Linked DNA regions of Homo sapiens: region 2 is linked to region 1. Evidence: fine-mapped expression QTL. A gene starts in region 1. The other region holds a variant in brackets. All regions are shown on one strand. Distances are from middle to middle.

What was found.
Region 2: its variant is fine-mapped to the expression of FAM216A in whole blood (TOPMed, PIP 0.91).

The regions. Positions count from the first base shown.
Region 1 is chr12:110,466,198-110,471,571 of GRCh38, forward strand. It overlaps FAM216A (family with sequence similarity 216 member A), which reads left to right and starts at 2,648. Exons shown (of 7, transcript NM_013300.3): 1 at 2,648-2,821. The coding sequence starts at 2,679. GPN3 (GPN-loop GTPase 3) reads right to left here and starts at 2,060. Exons shown (of 8, transcript NM_016301.4): 1 at 1,959-2,060. The coding sequence starts at 2,006. It overlaps LOC124903016 (a long non-coding RNA gene), which reads right to left. Exons shown (of 3, transcript XR_007063459.1): 2 at 4,442-4,619; 3 at 4,092-4,254. RefSeq lists enhancers at 2,172-2,301, 3,222-3,391 and a silencer at 2,712-3,021.
Region 2 is chr12:110,417,368-110,422,741 of GRCh38, forward strand. No RefSeq gene overlaps it. Among named protein-coding and RNA genes, the nearest start is that of ANAPC7, 16 kb to the left of the region's middle. The variant A/G (reference allele first, on the strand shown) is at 2,522.

The DNA of each region.
Region 1 (5,374 bases):
CTTGATAATTGTTTCTAATTGACTTATTATGTTTAAAGATAAGCTCCACAAGGGCACGGATTTTGTGTGTGCATGTTTTTTTCCCCATACAACCCCCAGGGCCCAAAACAGTGCCTGGGATAAAGAACGTACTCAAGGAATGTTTCTGATAGTAAGCATCAAAAGCTTATAAAGATACTTGTTTAATACAATCAGCCCAAAAATTAAAATAGACTATAGAAAAAACATCCATCATGCTGTCCTCTCAGTGCCTTTACACATACTGTTGTCTCTGTCTGGAATGCCCTCTCCATACATCACACACTGTATCTTTTTTTTTTTTGCAAAGGGTCTCACTGTCACCCAGGCTGGAGTGCAGTGGCACCATCATAGCTCACTGCAGCTTTGACCCAGGCTCAAGCGATTCTCCAGCCTTAGCCCCCCGAGTAGGTGGGACTATAGGCTCTCGCCACCATGCCCAGCTAATTTTTGTATTTTTGGTAGAGACAGGGCTTCACCATGGTGCCCAGGCTGACCCTGAACTCCTGGGCTCAAGTGATCTGCTGGCCTCAGCCTCCCAAAGTGCGAGGATTACAGGCTTAAGCCACCACACCTGGCCACATCACACTGTATCTTAATTGACAGGTCATCTATTTGTCTTCCCCAAAAGACTACAGACTCTGGGTAAGTTAAAGGCCATAGGTATCTTAGTTACATGTACATGTTTTTACCCAGAATAAGTCAACAGCTTAGAACAATGTGTTTGTTAAAGACTGAGGCCACACAACACCTCCACAGACTCTAGTGTTTCCACACTTCTTCTTTTTTTTTTTTGCGACAGTACCTCTGTCACCCAGGCTGGAGTGCAGTGGCACGATCACCACTCACCACAGCCTCAACCTCCTGGGTTCAGGTAATCCTCCCACTTCAGCTTCCCGAGAAGCTGGGACTAGAGGTACCTGCCACCAGGCCTGGCTAATTTTTGCATTTTTTTGTAGAGACAGAGTTTCGCCGTGTTGCCAAGGCTGGTCCCAAACTCCTGGGCTCAGGCGATCCGTCCACCTCCATCTCCCAAAGTGATAGGATTACAGACGTGAGCCACCACGCCTGGCTATGTTTCCCACACATATGTTATTTGATCCATATCTTCACCATTCTCACTGTATTTGAATGTTCCTAACATTCCCTTAATATTTGTTTACAAGAAAAAATTTTATCCCTACTGTAAACTGAAAACCACTTATATTTGACATAACGTGAAATTAGACATAAAATTATATAAAATCTTTAAATGTTCTATTTTTAGCTAAATACAGGTGCCTATTAAAAGCTCTGAGACTAAGAACTGCTCTCTGAAAAGACCTGGGGATTAAAGAAGTGCTGAAGATACACACTAGCACCGAGCACAACTTCTCCTAAATGCGAAGTTGAGAACTGAAAGAGAAATGAAAAGGGAACAATTTCCCTAACACATTATCTGATGCTCCTTAATGTGGGGTCCATGTACCACCTACCACCTAAAAGCACCTTAAATACCAAAAGTCCATGTCCCAAGTTCTGAGAAACAGTAATTAATGAGACCCCACTTTACCCTCCTGGGAGCGAGACAGGGCCGGATTCTGGAGTTGAGACAAAACTGGATTTATATTTTTTTGCGGGGCAAAGAACTTAATTAACCTTTCTGTATCTCGTTTTCTGTAAAATGAGAAAAATGAGATCTCTCTCACAGGGTTGTTGTAGAAATAAGCGAGGCGTTTCATCTGCTGCCTGGGGCTTAAGTATACAATAAATATTAACAACTACCATTATTTCCCTTTCAAAACAACAACAAAAAAGAACGTGAAGCCAGACAGCAGAAATGAGTTGCGTGGGGTCTCAGGGTTCCCAGTACACACACCCGCCGGCTCACTCCCTCAGGACCCAATCTCCCGCCTTCCACGAACTCCTACTTTTCTCTCCTTGTCCCCGCAGATCCTCACCTTCCCGCTGCCCGCGGGGCCCATGACCAGCTGCGCATACCGAGGCATGTTGGCTCCCGGAGCCGCCCGCCACACTCCCTTAGCCTTCGCGCGACGCCCACTGAGCTCCGGGAAAGTGAAGTGCGAACCAATCGCAATCCACATTCTTTCTACGCCTCCAGTTCTACCACACCTCCTACTACGGGGCAGCCCGCGGGCCAAATCCCGTGAGAAACGCGTCCTGAGAAAAAAGGGGAGGGGCGAGGGAGAGGATTTGCGCGTGCGCAAAAGTAGTTGATGGAAATCGGCCGTTGGGATGCTGTCTAAGCTTGGATACCTGAGTAATAACGGACAACAGATAAAGCTCCGCATCCTTGCGCCACGTGCTTCGGTCCGTGGTTTGCGTGCAGACGTTTGACCTGTATGGTGACCCTCGCGATTTGCAAATGTGCTGAGGATCTGGAATACTGAAGTGGAAGGCACCTCTTGTTTTGGGGAGCATGTATATTTCCCTCCTGTGACGCACTGCTTCCACAGAGAGGTGCAAACGTGCAAACGCTCAGCGACCGCAGCGCTCCTGCCCCTCCCCCACCGTAACTCCGGGGTCGCGGATCTGCCCGCCCCGCTCTCCCGAAGCTGTTCGGGCAGTGTCCGAACGGCTTCGGAGGGGCGAGAAGCCAGCATCCGAGCCGCCTCTCCGGAATACCAGCAGCCTGACGCACGCGTGCTGTCGGGGGAGGGATGCTGGGACAGCTGCTCCCGCACACGGCTCGCGGTCTCGGCGCCGCGGAGATGCCCGGCCAGGGTCCGGGGTCCGACTGGACGGAGCGTAGCTCTTCTGCAGAGCCGCCCGCTGTGGCCGGGACCGAGGGTGGCGGCGGCGGGTGAGGTTGGGGGCCCCGGGGTAAGGGTGGCAGCATGGGGCCCCCGGGTCGTGAGGCCCCCGGGTCGTGAGCCCCGTGGAGGAGGGCTGCGGCCGACCTCTCGTCTCGGGGGCTGGCCCCGGTGCCCTCAAGTGAGAGGCGGGGAGCAGTTTTGTTGTGGACAGAGGGCAGAGGGGAGGACTGCCTCGCGGTTGAGGGAGGGTCTCTGAGGGAAGCTTCGGAGGAGCGTTTGGTGCAGTGGCCACGAGGTGACTGCGACAGTCGCCCGCGTGCATCTCTCTGCCCCGAGGGGGCGCTGCGAGCCCTGCTGGGACGTTTGCTGTCTGGCACAGGACTGTGTGTCCACCGAAAGGCGAGGCGGGAGGGACAGAGGAGGAAGATGTCCCCCGGTTCAACTGGGGGCATCCAGGCCCATAAACCAGTTCCTTCCCTCTAGTGACATGAGCCACCTTCCTGTCAAACGGGGATTTCTTTTTCTTTTTTTTTCTTTTCTTTCTTGTTTTTTGAGAGCGAGACAGTCTCGCTCTGTTGCCTAGGCTGGAATGCGGTGGTGCGATCTCAGCTCACTGCAACCTCAGCCTCCCAGGTTCAAGTGATTCTCCTGCCTCAGCCTCCCGAGTAGCTGGGATTACAGGCGCCTGCCACCACGCCCGGCTAATTTTTGTATTTTTAGTAGAGAGGTGGTTTCACCATGTTGGCTAGGCTTGTGTCGAACCCCTGACCTCAAGTGAGCCGCCCGCCTCGGCCTCCCAAATTGCTGGGATTACGGGGTGAACCATTGCGCCCGACCTCAAACGAGGATTTCTAATCGCCAATGAGACCAATGACTGAATATCCGAGGTGCCTTGATCTTGACATTTTCTTCACACTGAAGTTCCTTTTTTCACAAATCTATTTCGTTTTGAGCAGGTTTTTACACCTATTTCCTAGATAGTGAAGACAGCGAGCTGTTGAAGTCACTGCTGGAGACTCTACCTCCTCTTCCTCTCCCTACTTTATTCCCTAAAAGCAAGAACTGCGATATGTTTGCCGTTCAGTACAACCCGCAGTCAGGGCCCCTGTTGCACCCATGGCCATCCTTTTTGTTTTTTTTTTTTTGAGACAGAGTCTCGTTCTGTTGCCCAGGCTGGAGTGCAGTGGTGCCATCTCAGCTCACTGCAAGCTCCGCCTCCCGGGTTCACGCCATTCTCCTCCCTCAGCCTCTGGAGTAGCTGGGATTACAAGCGCCTGCCACCACGCCCGGCTACTTTTTTGTATTTTTAGTAGAGACGGGGCTTCACCGTGTTAGCCAGGATGGTCTCGATCTCCTGACCTCGTGATCCGCCCGCATGGCCGTCCTTTTTGTCTCTGGTGCTACTGAAGACTTCTTAAAGATGGGATGGAGTCTTGGGTTTCTTTTCTGTTCTTCACAGTCCTTGGCCGACTGCAGGATCCTGGTGTATCAGGAGATACGTGAATTTTTTTTTTTTTTTTTATTGAGACAGAGTCTCCCTCTGTCACCCAGGCTGGAGTGCAGTGTCACGATCTCAGCTAACTGCAACCTCCGCCTCCTGTGTTCAAGCAATTCTCCTGCCTCAGCCTCCCAAGTAGCTGGGACTACAGGTGTGCGCCACCACGTACCTGGCTAATTTTTGTATTTTTAGTAGAGATGGGCATGAGCCTGTAATCCTGGAAGGTTCTATTATGATCCCCACTTTATGGATGACAAAACAGGCACAAAGAGGTTGTTTGTCCTTTCCTTTTATCTCCGCCTGTCGTTCATCTCCATGCTTCCTTTAGTTTATCCAAACTCTTAAAACTACAATTAAAAAAAAAGACAGTATGCCCTTCAGTTTGGTTTAAGGAACCCCATTAAAAAACACAAACCAAGACTAATTTATGAAAAGCTTATATTCCCAGAAATACAAAATAAAATTTTCAAACTAGAATCAGGTTTATTATGCTACATGATACAATGTTGGCACTGGCAGGGGTCTTAAAAATCATCAATTCCGGTCATATTTACTAATCTGAAAGGGGAAGTGATCTGCCAAAAATCCCATTATTAACTAATGGGAACTCCGGAACTCCTTACTTTTTTTCTTCTTTTTTTTTGAGATGGAGTCTCGCTCTGTCACCCAGGCTGGAGTGCAGTGGTGTGATCTTGGCTCACTGCAACCTCCGCCTCCCAGGTTCAAGCGATTCTCCTGCCTCCTGAGTAGCTGGGACTACAGGCACGTGCCACTACGCCTGGCTAAGTTTTTGCATTTTTAGTAGAGAACGGGGTTTCACCATGTTAGCCAGGATGGTCTCGATTTCCTGACCTCGTGATCCACCCGCCTCGGCCTCCCAGAGTGCTGGATTACAGGCGGGAGCTACCGTGCCCAGCACTTTTTTTCTTTAAAGTCAGGTTTATTGAGGCATAATTTACACAAATTAAAGTCTTACTTTTTCATGTATAATATGATGGGTTTTGACAAATGCACATGGCTATGTAAGCACTGCCACACTAAAGATACAGAGCAGCTCTATCACTCCTTCAAAACTCCCTCATACCTTATAAAGTCAACCTTT
Region 2 (5,374 bases), 49 kb before region 1:
TTTTCCTGCATGTAACAAGTGATGAGGATTTATCTGGAAAAGGTACCCTCTCCATATAAGAGCAAGAAAATAGCCCTTATCTCCAGAGACTTAAAACTAAAGGCTACAATGGACCTCCATAAACATACTTAACAAAGTTACCTTTACTTTCACCAGTTTGGCACTCCCCCCATTTATCTCCTAGTGACTCCCCTGAAAAATTTACTGCCCCAGCCAGATTTTCTTTGTCCTGTCATTTCTTCTCAAGTATATTGCTCTTTGTCTAAAACATATAAAGCATCTTATTTGGCCACTTCTTCAGACTTCACTCTTTTTTTTGTGTAGACCCCCCCGTACACGTGAAACAAAGTTTGTACACTTTTCTCTTGTTAATCTGCCTGGTGTCAGTTCGTTTTCGATCCAGCTCAAAAACCCACTAAGAGTTAAAAGAGGGGCTGGAGGTGATCTCTGGGTCCCTTGCAGTGTAGCGGGCTAATTTAGGAATCAGACCGACGGGTTGAGGAGGATACTTACTATTTAATTATTTAGGTGCACCAACCCAGTCGGATTAACATCCAAAGGACTGAGCCCCTAACAAAGAGTCAAGTTACCTTTTAAGCATTTCATGGGGCAGGGGGAGATCTGTGCAGGGGGAAGCATATTACAGAAGTGAGAAACAAAGACAGTTATTCAGTTGAGACATGCATTACATCATTTCTTTTTTTTTTTTTTTTGAGACGGAGTCTCGCTCTGTCGCCCAGGCTGGAGTGCAGTGGCGGGATCTCGGCTCACTGCAAGCTCCGCCTCCGGGTTCACGCCATTCTCCTGCCTCAGCCTCCCAAGTAGCTGGGACTACAGGCGCCCGCCACTACGCCCGGCTAATTTTTTGTATTTTTAGTAGAGACGGGGTTTCACCGTTTTAGCCGGGATGGTCTCGATCTCCTGACCTTGTGATCCGCCCGCCTCGGCCTCCCAAAGTGCTGGGATTACAGGCGTGAGCCACCGCGCCCGGCCGCATTACATCATTTCTTACTTTTCAAGGAAAAACATGTTTTACGACTTGAGTTTATCTATCTACTTACCTTGCAGCCACACAGCTAGAGAAACAGAGTCTTCACAATGCCTGGGAAAGGGAGAGATAAGGCTCACTAGCCACAGACAGAAAAACAGGCAGTTAATTTTTAAAGGACTCCACCTTTTTCTCTTCCTCAGGGGGAATTGGGTTTTCTTACATACAACTGAGTTTTTGCTTACACATTCTTTAATTTCTTTTAATTCCTGTTCCAGAAGCACTATATAAATGTTTGCTATTATACTTTTTTCTTTTCTTTTCTTTTTTTTTTTTTTTTGAGACGGAGTCTCGCTCTGTTGCCCAGGCTGGAGTGCAGTGGTGTGATCTCATCTCACTGCAAGCTCCGCCTCCCGGGTTCATGCCATTCTCCTGCCTCAGCCTCCTGAGTAGCTGGGACTACAGGCGCCCACCACCATGCCTGGCTAATTTTTTGCATCTTATGGAGAAATAGCCATAGCATTTAGCAACATGAAAGTCACTGATGATGTCAACAAGAACATTTTCAGTGGCGCTTTGGTAAAGAGAAGGAGACAAATGTGAGACAATGCATATAGATAATTCTTTTATTTTGAGATGGAGTCTTGCTCTGTTGCCCATGCTAGAGTTCAACGGCATGATCTCGGCTCACTGCAACCTCTGCCTCCCAAGTTCAAGTGATTCTCCTGCCTCAGCCTCCCCAGTAGCTGGATTACAGGCATGCTCCACCATGCTCCTGCTAATTTTTGTGTATTTTAGTAGAGAAGGGGTTTTACCATGTTGGCCAGGCTAGTATTGAACACTTGACCTCAGGTAATCTGCCTGCCTTGGCCTCCCACAGTGCTGGGATTACAGGCATGAGCCACCTTGCCCAGCCAATAATTCTTTTTTTTTTTTTTGAGACGAGATCTCGCCCTTTCGCCCAGGCTGGAGTGCAGTGGCACGACCTTGGCTCACTGCAACCTCCACCTCCTGGGTTCAAGTGATTCTCCTGCCTCAGCCTCCCAAGTAGCTGGGATTACAGGCATGTGCCACCTGCCCGGCTGGCTAATTTTTGTATTTTTAGTAGAGACGGGGTTTCACCATGCTGGCCAGGCTGGTCTCGAACTCTTGACCTGGTGATCCGCCTGCCTCGGCCTCCCAAAGTGCTGGGATTACAGGCATGAGCCACTGTGCCCGGCCAATTATTTTGAGGAGTTTTGCTGCAGAGAAGTGGTTCTCAACTGGGGTGGAGGCAGGGTGGTGACTGTATTCCTAGGGGACATTGGGCAATGTCTGGAGACATCTGAGGTGGGGTGGGTGTTGCTTCTGGCATCGGGTAGATAGATACTAGGGATGCTGCTAAACATTCTTTAATGTATAGGACAGCCCCCCACGGCAAAGTGGAGGAGAAATTTACATTCATGCCAGGCATGGTGGCTCACACCTATAATCCCAGCTACTTGGGAAGCTGAGGCAGGAGAATCACTTGAACCCGGAGGTGGAGGTTTCGGT[A/G]AATCTAGATTACACCATGGCACTCCAGCCAGGGTGACAGAGGGAGATTCTGTCAAAAAGAAAAAAAAAATTTTTTTAATTCATATATTTAAGTAGCCAGTCCAAAATGTCAAAGTGTCAATGTGGAGAAGCCCTGTTGTAAAGCAAAGGAGGACATGGTTGGCAGCAGGTGGGTGAAAGAGAGGATTTTTGTTTTCTGATTGGAGAAATATCATTTTTATATACTGATGGGAATGAAGGAGAATGTATCACTGGCTAACTGGTAGAAGAAAGGTTGAGACTGGGCACAGTGGCTCAGGTCTGTAATCCCAGCACTTTGGGAGGCCAAGGTGGGTGGATCACTAGGTCAGGAGTTCAAGACCAGCCTGGCCAATATGGTGAAACTCCATCTCTACTAAAATTACAAAAATTAGTTGGGTGTGGTGGCGCATGCCTGTAGTCCCAGCTACTCGGGAGGCTGAAGCAGAAGAATCGCTTGAACCCGGGAGGCAGAGGTTGCAATGAGCTGAGATCGCACCACTGCACTCCAGCCTGGGTGGCAGAGTGAGACTCAGTCTCAAAAAAAAAAAAAAAAAAAAGAAAAGTTGATAATTCCTGCAAAGAAATAGAGCTAAAACACACCTGTGAAACTGATAAACTCACACAAAGAATGGATGAAGCAAAAATATTTATAGAGAAAAAATTAGAGGCAAAGGGGGACCTACCTCCTCTGGAAATTTTATTTATTTATTTATTTATTTATTTTTTATTTTTTATTTTTTTTGAGACAGGATCTCCCTCTGTTGCCCAGGCTTGAGTGCAGTGGCACAATCATACCTCACTGTAGCCTCAACTTCCCAGGCTTAAGTGGTCCCTCCACCTCAGCCTCCCAAGTAGCTGGGACTATAGGCATGCACCACCACACCAAGCTAATTTAAAAAATTGAGTGTGTGTGGAGATGGGGTCTTGCTATGTTGCCCAGGCTGGTCTTAAACTCCTGGGCTCAAGCTGTCCTCCTGCCTTGGCCTCACAAAGTGCTGGATTACAGGTGTGAGCCACTGTGCCCAATTTTTATTTATTTATTTAGAGTTGTGTCTCTCTCTGTCACCCAGGCTGGAGTGCAGTGGCGAAATCATAGCTCACTGCAGCCTTGACCTCCTGGGCTCAAGCAATCCTTCCACCTCTGCCTCCTGAGTACTTGGGACTACAGGTGTGTGGTACCATGCCCAGCTAATCTGGAAATTTCAAAATATTCATCTTGAAAATCAATTTATCAAAGAGAGGGTAGGTTCTACGGTTAGGTCCCATTAATATGATGTAATTCAGATCATACTGATTTTGTTTTGTTTTGTTTTGAGACAAGGTCTGGCTCTATCACCCAGGCTGGAGTGCAGTGGTGCAATCACAGCTCACTGCAACCTCTACCTTTCGGGCTCAAGAGATAATCCCACCTCAGCCTTCCAAGAAGCTGGGAGTACAGATACCTGCCACCACGCCTGGCTAATTTTTTTTGGTAGAGACAGGGGTTTTGCCATGTTGCCAGGCTGGTCTTGAACTGAGCTCAAGCTGAAACAGGAATTAAAATAAATCAAAAAATGTTTAAACAAAAACTCAGTTGTATATAAGAAAACCCAATTCCCCTTGAGGAAGAGAAAGAGCTGGAGTCCTTTAAAATTAACTGCCTGTCTTTCTGTGGCTAGTGAGCCTTATCTCTCCCTTTCCCAAGCATTGTGAAGACCCTGTTTCTCTAGCTGTGCAGCTACAAGGTCACTAGACAGATAATCTCAAGTTGTAAAACATGTTGTTCCTTAAAAAGTATGAAATAATGTAATGCATGTCTCAATTAAATAACTGTCTTTGTTTCTTGCTTCTGTAATATGCTTCCCCCTGCACAGATCTGCCCCTGCCCCACGAAATGCTTAAAAGGTAACTTGACTCTTTGTTCAGGGCCCAGTCCTTTGGATGTTAATCCGACTGGGTTGGTGCAGCTTAATAATTAAATAATTCCTCCTCAACCCCTCAGTCTCTCTAATTCCTTAATTATCCCGCAGCAAAGTGATCCACCCGCCTTGGCCTCCCAAAGTGCTGGGATTACACACATGACCCACCATGCTTGGCCAGATCATACTGATTTTAATAATATTCAAAGGACATGTATGGTGTTAAAACAACTTGGGACACACAGGAGATATATCCAAGGAGACTAGGCCTCCTCTTCCTCATGGAATCATATTCAGAAAGGATAATTTTGGAGCTGGAGGGCGTGTTAGAGGTTATCTTCATTTTATGTGAGGAAACAGAAGTCCTGGGATGGTAATTGGCTGTGAATCGTTAGGTCAGCTGCGTAACAGATGTAGAATGATGTGGATACCGTGGAGTGTTGGGTCAAATACATTGGAGGAACAACTTATAAATATAAATGTTCTGCTCCACTTAAGTTCATCTCTAAATGTCCAGCAGCTTCCTAAGAATGAAAATTTTTCCCAGCTGCAATCAGACATTTTTCTTAGATCTGTCTTTTGTACAAGGGGAAAAACATAACACTTATAAATTGCTCTAAGGGAAACATTACTTAACATCCCTTAAGTGTCTCCTGGCAGTGATAGGTTTCCTTTCAGTGGAAAAATAACTTCAGGACAAAGAATTTCCCTGAACAACTGGAGGGAATAAATACCACCAGCATCCCAACCAATTTTCCCTCTTTTCAGTAAAGAAGGTTCTAAGATGTCCAGATGGTCATTTTTATTTATGAGATAGTCAGACAAGTAAAAAGACTTAAATAATGGTTTAGGGATAAATCTCAAGGGGATTTGTGATAAAATAGCAAATGGGTGACTTTTTAAAAGCACTCTGAAAGCAGGAACTCAGCTTGTA